Homo sapiens: one gene and its partner. The protein of the gene in region 1 interacts with the protein of each later gene in a pairwise test. Each region holds a gene or a part of one and is shown on either strand. Other genes may lie near its edges. The genes, in order: COL5A1 and GALNT7.

Evidence for each region.
Region 2: the proteins of COL5A1 (region 1) and GALNT7 interact in a two-hybrid assay, tested with the Homo sapiens proteins (one study listed by IntAct).

The regions. Positions count from the first base shown.
Region 1 is NC_000009.12:134,819,658-134,823,568, reverse strand, and holds part of COL5A1 (collagen alpha-1(V) chain isoform 1 preproprotein), read right to left. Parts: exon of another isoform or gene 3,454-3,911; coding exon 3,346-3,453; intron 1,473-3,345; coding exon 1,419-1,472; intron 572-1,418; coding exon 536-571; intron 154-535; coding exon 100-153; intron 1-99. UniProt on the Homo sapiens protein: Type V collagen is a member of group I collagen (fibrillar forming collagen). It is a minor connective tissue component of nearly ubiquitous distribution. Type V collagen binds to DNA, heparan sulfate, thrombospondin, heparin, and insulin.
Region 2 is NC_000004.12:173,171,805-173,175,715, reverse strand, and holds part of GALNT7 (N-acetylgalactosaminyltransferase 7), read right to left. Parts: intron 1-3,911. UniProt on the Homo sapiens protein: Glycopeptide transferase involved in O-linked oligosaccharide biosynthesis, which catalyzes the transfer of an N-acetyl-D-galactosamine residue to an already glycosylated peptide.

The DNA of each region.
Region 1 (3,911 bases):
GAGTCTCAGGAGGGGTCACACACACACAGTTGCTTTCTCAATTCCCTCGGAGCTAGCCAGAGCCCCCGTCCCGCTTTCTGGGCTTCAAGGGCTACTTACCGGGGGGCCTGGGGGTCCTGGGTGGCCTGCCTCACCCTTCGGGCCAGTTGGACCCTGGGGAGAAAGAAAAGAATCAACCCTTGGTCACAGAGGTATGAGGGGACTTTGAATCCACCTTCAGCTCTAGAATGGTCCCTGGAGACCTATGTGGGGGAGGTGGCCCTATCAGCCACAGCAGAGAAGAGAATGGCAGAGACCCCTGTACCCTCCTGGATCCTTGAGATGAGAACAGAGAGGGATGGAGCCCTTCCTAGGGCAGGCGGCGAGCAGCCCACCTGCCTCAGTCCGCCATGGGTCAGTGTAGAAAGATGGGAGGATCGTGAGCAGCAGGGCCTGAGCTAGGACGGTTGTCTGGGTAGTTTGTTCCCGTGCCAGGGGACCCGTCGCCCTCCCCTACCTTCCAGGCATTGGCCTGGCTGGGCAGCATGTTACTTACCGAGGAGCCCTTAGCACCTTTTGGACCAGGCGGACCCTGCAGAGAGAGGAGGGCAGAACGTCAGCAAGCCGGGTCTCAGCTCCAGCCCCACCGTGCTCCATGTCCTGCCCAGCCTGGTCTCGCCCCTCGCCCCTCTCCCACCCGCATCCCCCTCAAGAGTCTATGCTTGTATTTGCCCGGCTAGAGTGGGAGGAGGGTCGGGGCCTGGCTGGTGCTCACCCCTCGTGGAGACACAGGGTGGTCCTACCTGCCCCCGGCCAGCCTACCACCCACCCTGGCTAGGAAACCCCAGCTCAGACAGCCGCGGGGGGGGCGCAGCGGAAAAGAGCATGTCCTGGCTCAGAAGGGGCTGATGGAATGCACCCCCCAGCCCTGATAGCACACAGCAGGGGCCAGCCCTCAGCGTGCCAGGGGCCCCCGGGGGCCATGTGTACCTGCAGCCCAGCGGCTGTGGGGATGCCCTGGGAATGCTGGGTCTCCCAGCAATGTGAGACCCAGGCAGCGGTGCCAGAGGAGGGCAGCTAACTGCTCTTGTCTGGGCCAGGCTGGCCGGGCTCCTGGGAATTGGGAGGGCTGGAGAGCCAACTACTACCTTCCGCACCCTCCCCAGATGCCTACAGACAAGTGGCCTCGTTCCCTGAAATGGCCACCGTTTCCTGTCCCTGTCTTCCCCACCAAAAACCATGGCCGGGCAACGCCACTTCCTTTCTTCTGTCTCCTGGAACCCCAATGTTGAGTTAATGGGCAAATCCACCCTGGAGGCCCCAATTCCAGCTTCTCGTGTGACTTTTCCACAATTCTCTAGCTCCACACTGAGGCCCCAAGGCTTATCCCCACCCTCCCTGCCCTCCCAGGAATGACCAAGCCCCTCCCAGATACACACCGGCAGGCCAGGGGGCCCAGGAGGCCCAATCGGGCCAGAAGGACCAGTGATACCCTGAAAAGGACCAGAAAATGCAGGTTATCACCTTCAGACGAGGAGGAGCTGCGGGGCTGCAACCCTGCTACCCAGCCACACCCCTCGGCTCCCCTGTCCCTTCCCCACGGTATGCCCTTTGGCCCCTCAGCAGCCTCCTGTGGCTGCTTTCTGATCCTGGGCTGTGCATGTCAGGGGAGCCATCGACCTGAGCATCCACCCCAAGGCTGCCAGCCCTCGGCACTGCTCCCCCGGCTGGGCTGCCAGGAACTCACTCTCATCCCCCAGGCCACCGAGGACTTCAGGCTGAGCACCTCTTTTCACGTTCATTTGGAAATACAGAAACCACTGCCCTGACATTGTGGCCCTGGCTTGGGCCCCTCTTGCTGTTTCCTGCTCATGGTGTTAGTCTCCCCTCTAGAACTAAGCCCGGAGGGGTTGGGCAGGGAGTCCCATCCATGCTGACTGTCCTGTCCTGCCTGTAAATGTGCTTTCTGCATCCTTGGAGCGTGGAACCTCCGCTCAGACCCCTTCTCCCCACTGACTCCCTCCCAGACTGAGCTGCTGGCACAGAACAGCTTTGACCAGCTTTGCCACGGGCAGCTGGAGCCACCTGCAGCCTCTCTCCCTACAGCCCTGGATTCCACTCAGAGCTCTCTCCGGGCAGAAGCTGGGGGCGAGGGTAGCGGAGGGCTGATGGCCGTATTTCACTGGGGAGGGAGCGCTTCCCTCCCTTCACCTTGTCCCTGCAGGAACTTGGGCTGTGGCTCATTGTAAGGACCCCACAACTACCCAAGCCTGCACACCAACCCGACACCTTCATCAGCAATGCCGCCAAGACCATGGTTTGGGGTGAGGGCAGGTGAGCAAACAGGGTGGACACAGGGGTGCTTTCCCCGCTGGCCGTGGGGACCCTGGATGCCTCTCTAATTCTCGTGGTTGCCGGGCCACCACACCCTGGGCGGCACTCCTCCGACGACCCTGCTGTGGCCTGGGGATACCGGCAGAGGAAAACAGTCAATGGCATGGAGGACACTGGCCAGTGAGGTAGGGTTTGCAATGAGCTCCACCCTTCAGCCATGTCCTGCAACCTTCCCCGGGCCCATAGTGAGGGTGCCACCTTACTCCCAGCCTCCAGGGGCTCTGCCTGCTCCTGCCCTGTCCCCCGCATCCTATGAGGCATGGGCGTGGGTGGGCACAGCATACTGTGCGTGTGTGTGTCCGTCACACCTTGCTCGGGACGGAAAGATTCCCACACAGGAATAAGGACCCGTGGCCCTCATGGGGGAAGGACAGAGGCACTACAGGTCACCTCATCCCCTCTCCTGCCTCCATGGCACACGTCACCCTCCCCAGGCCACTTCCAAGTCACTCAGAGTTGTGGGACAGAGTGAAGCTCTCTGCATGGCGTTTCCTTGGCTATGGTTTGCAGAGGCTGCAAACTCCAATGAGCTACAGTTTGGGGGCAGCTGGGGACAAGGTGGAAGCAGGAGCCAGAACAGCCACTCTGCCCGCAGCTCTGGCAAACACGGCTGGTTGTCACCAGTGACCTCCTGGGCAAGCGGTGGGTGACAGGCTCTCCCACAGGGCTGGGAACCAGGCAGAATGACCTGACTTCCGAGTCCCTCCAGCTCTGGGGGACACCACGGTCATGAGGAGGAAGCCCCGCCTGCCAGTCAGGGCATGGAGCTGGGAGACGGCTCTGCCCAGCTCACTGTGCACCTGGGCAAGCCCAGCCCGTCAGTGTTCCCATCTGCCAAGCAGGATGACCGGACTCAACCGACGTGTGGACGTCCTTCCGGGCTCTGATGGGCCTCCTGTCCCCTGGGTGCCTGCCCCAGGGATCTAAAATGCCTCTCGACAGCCCACATGCAAGAAGTGCCATCTCACGCACCTGTTCTCCCTTAGGACCGGAGGAGCCCTGGGGGCCAGGGAGACCACGGTCGCCCTTCTCACCCTGTTCACCCGGAGGACCGATGAGCCCGATCAGGCCTGGATGACCCTGTGGGAAAATGAAGACAGGAAGGGGCATTTGAGGGAGCCACGCCTCATGCTCGGCCACGGTGGGCCAGTTAGCACGCAGCACAGCCATGGCACAGGAAGCTTTACATCATGGTCAGCCTCCCCTGGAAGGGGAACAGGCTCAACAGAGGGGCCAGGTGACGAAACGGCAGGTCCGAGGTGGCCCTTCGCTGGCCACAGTCACGTCTAAAAACAGACAGGGAGCCACAGACACTGAGACAGACCAAAGTGATAAAGGGGTTTTCCTGAGTGGTAATGTTTATCTCTGTCTTTCTCTTCGTATACGCTCTCCAATTTCCTATGGCAAATCCGAACGCCTGCTCCTATACGGAACTAAAACAAAGTTTGTGGACTGACACGGAAAGAAAGATGCAGAGTATTATAGATATTACAATCATGGGTTGTTTTTCTAAAAAAAGAAGAATCCATGACACTCGC
Region 2 (3,911 bases), on another chromosome or scaffold:
TAAACTTGAAGAATCATAAGACATCTTAAGTCCAGATGTGCTCAGACTTATGACAGGGTTACACACCGATAAACCCATTGAAAAGTCAAAAATCGTAAGCTGAATCATGGTAAGTCAGGGACCATCTATATTGTCTTCAGTGTTTATCTGAAATTACCCAGCTAGCGTCTACATATCCACCTTTTAATGTAGCCCATGTGTACTTGTCTGTGTTGTTAAAAACTGTAGTGCAAGATCAGAGAGCACAGCTCTGAAGTTAGAACACCTGAGATTGAATCCTGGCTCTACAATTAATTAAGTGAATAAACTTGGACAAAGAGTTCACCTCTCTATACCACAACAGTCTCATCTATAAAGTTGGGATTCCATCGGACTTGCAATAGAGGGTGGTTGTTACAAATAAACAACCAAATACATGTAGAATATGTATTAGGCCCAAAGTAAGGATTCAATATATGTAAACTATTATTGTTGCTGTTATTACTGAAATCTTTAATTTAGTTACTTTTCAGATTGTACATTCATTCTTCAGGAATGAGAATCGAAATTCAAAATATGAACAAAGACAATTATCTAGTTAGGAGCTGAATAATCACAGTCATTTTCCTTCATTCAATAGCTACTCAAATCTTGCTGACCAACTTTTTTAATAACTCAAGTTAGAATTTCCACATATTCTGTTTACAGATGGCTCAAGCTCAGAATTTTGCTTTTCATTCGTGAATTATTTTCTCTCTTCCTCTTTCTCCAATTTACTATTGTCTAACAGTTTATACAGGAACCCAAATCGTATCTCACACGTTATCTCCCATCCCATGCAACCAGCCTAAGTCACAAAATAGACTGCTGTTCAAAAGTTTTCATTCTCTCTTTACTAGTAACTGTGCATTCCCCAAAGGCCATTTTAAGCCTTCTCCACCTACTGGTTTGACTACTGATGAAACATATCCTTGTGACAGTTCTTGTATTATTTCTTTACATTGCTACTGGATTAAGCAATAGCTCTCCCCACCCCCAACTAGATTGTGAGAGCAGGAACTCCCACTTCAGGTGTTATCAGTATTCTTCATGAGGTCTTAGGGAGGGGAGGATGGGGATGGGGGAGGGGCAAGCAGGTGGTAACAGGGCTGATGCCTGACCTCACATAGACCACTGGATGGAAAACTTTTCCACAGAAGTGATAAATACAACAATTCTTAGGAATTCGCCAAACATTTCCGAAATGTTCAGACCTATGTGGGAGACATAAATGGATGTACCTTAGTTTCTTTGAAAAATATTTAATATGTGCCTTCCATAAAATTAGCACCAGGAAAGATGGAGGAAATACTCAACAAACAGGAAACATGAACCCTGCCTTCAAAGGGCACATGGTCAGTGGCTGGAAGCCTTGTTTGGTTTAGAGGACACTTTAGGAAACATGAAAGCTTCTGATTATCAACCTAGAAAAAAATGTAGATGTATGCAAAAGTTCTGCATTAATTTCAGGAAGTCTATAAACCCCAGACTTCTCAGACTTGGTGATGTGATATTTTTAATCATTATTATGTGTGGGGGGAGAAGGGGGATGGGACACTGAAAACAGCAAAGGAAACAAAAACCAATCCTAAGGTGTATAGCCTGGGAAACTGAGAGAACAGTGACCACTTAAGACACTACACTTTCACTAAGTGATAGCTCCATCCCTAATAGTATAAACAGAGCTTCCATTTGAAGTACAATCTCATGTTCAAGGGCAGAATTTTTCAGGTTACAACTGATCATCACTGAGATAAAATGGCTTTGGTAAGGTGGAACTTGACTGCCAGGGTAATCAGTTCAGCCACTAATCCTCATTTAAGCTATATTCCTTTCAAACCTGTTAGCTTGCCTATCACATAAAACCTCTTGGCCTACTAGTTCCTGAATTAGTCCTATTATATACACCCTGAACCTAAGTGGCATTAATGACTTGACTAAAGTTGCATTTGCATATCCAGAGAGTCATTAGTTTACACACAGCTTCTCACCAGTACTGAATGTTTTAATGCAGGGGTCCCCAACCCTGGGTCATGGAGCATAAACCCTATTGTGAACTGCATGCAAGGGATCCGGGTTGCACACTCCTTATGAGAATCTAATACCTAATGATCTGAGGCGGAACAGTTTCATCCCCAAACCATCCCCCACCCAACCCAACTCCCCCAGTCTGTGGAATAATTGTCTTTGACAAAACCAGTCCCTGGTGCTAAAAAGGTGGGGGACTGCTGTTTTAATGGATCTGTCAACATTTCCTTTAAAAACCTTTATTTTCAGAGGCTTATGGGTCAACTGTAGACAGTCACTCAGGGCTAAAACCTGGGATAAATGGTGTTAGTCTGGGACATAATTTATTTAATTAAAGGAACTTTCTGTGCTTTGCAAGTCCAAGCAGATAATCTTAATAAATGCTGACCTTAAAATATCCAGAGGGCAAAGACTAAAAAAAAAAAAGCTTCCCATAATCATAAAATACAATACAAGAAGGTATACATTTTGCTTTGAGAACTTTCCATAATGAAACAAATAATCTATCATCCTAGGCCTCCTGACACCTTCACTACCATATCCAATAGCCAAATCCTGATGCCTTTGCATCTTTAGGAGCTCTTGAATCAATTTATTTTTTTCTATCTCTACCACCGCCCTGCCAATCTAAGCAAGGATTATGTCCCACCTGAATAATGATGACCCCCACCAGGACTCCTGCTACCTGTTCTATAGACAAATACATACTTTCTGTAGGCAGCCAGAGTGATCTTTTCAAAACACAAATCCACTCTTCCCTACTTAAAATCTTTCAACGGCTTCTCACCGCACTTAAGATCTCCTCCTTAGCATGGACTACGAGACCCATGCTTTCCTGTGTGGCATCATTCTACTTGTCATTCTCCACGTTCCAACAATATTTATCTCCTAGTTTCTCACTATTTCACTCATGCTACCTCCTGCCTCAGGACCTTTGCCCAAATGCTCCTTCTCAAGAATGCTGCCACCCACTTCCAGATTAACTACTTTTCTTGAAATGTTCAGATTTCGCCTCAAAAGTCAGAGTAGGCAGCTAGGCAGACATGAGCAGGGCAGGAAAGGCCCCCCACCACCAGGAATGTCAGGCGGCCATCAGGTGATGGTCAGGCCGTTGTTAAACTGTCTCTCTGAAATAATAATTGGTCGCGCCAACACCATGGAAAGGCAGTCTCCCATTAGATAGAAAACACCTAAAGCTGGTTATCAGCAGGTTCCCACTAAGATCTCAGGAGTTGGGCAAGTGGGCTCCAGCATGTGCACTAATAGGCAAAATGGCAGCTTTTAACTAGTATATGCCCTTCCTCTAGGAAGGCTCAAATTGTAAGGGAAAAATGCCTCAAGTGAGCATGAGTAAAACTTCAGTAAACACACTGCAGGCAGCCCCTCCCCGCTGCTGGCAGGCCACTGCGCATGCAGACAGCCCACCCCAAGGGAAGAATCACGGGAGAAGAAACGCAAACCCTGGAATCATGCCAATGTATAAAACCCCAAGTCCAGGGTCAGACGAGGTACTTGGATTTCTCAAGTAGCCCACATGGCCTTCTTCAAAGTGTACTTCCTTCCGTTCCTGCTCTAAAGCTTTTTAATACTCTCACTCCTGCTCAAAAATTTGCCTCGGTCTCTCACTCTGCCTTATGCCCCTCCAATAAATTCTTTCCCACAGGAGGTAAGAATCGAGTTGCTTCAGACCTGTGTGGATTTGCTACTGCTAATAGTCATTTCTTCAAGTAAGGCTTTTATGACCAAATTCCTCCATTTTCTTGCCCCCTATGGTTTTCACTATGAAAGCAGTAGCACAATTTTTATTTATATATTTATCGAGGTTTGATTGCTGTGTGGTTTTTACAAGATCCATGAGATTAAGG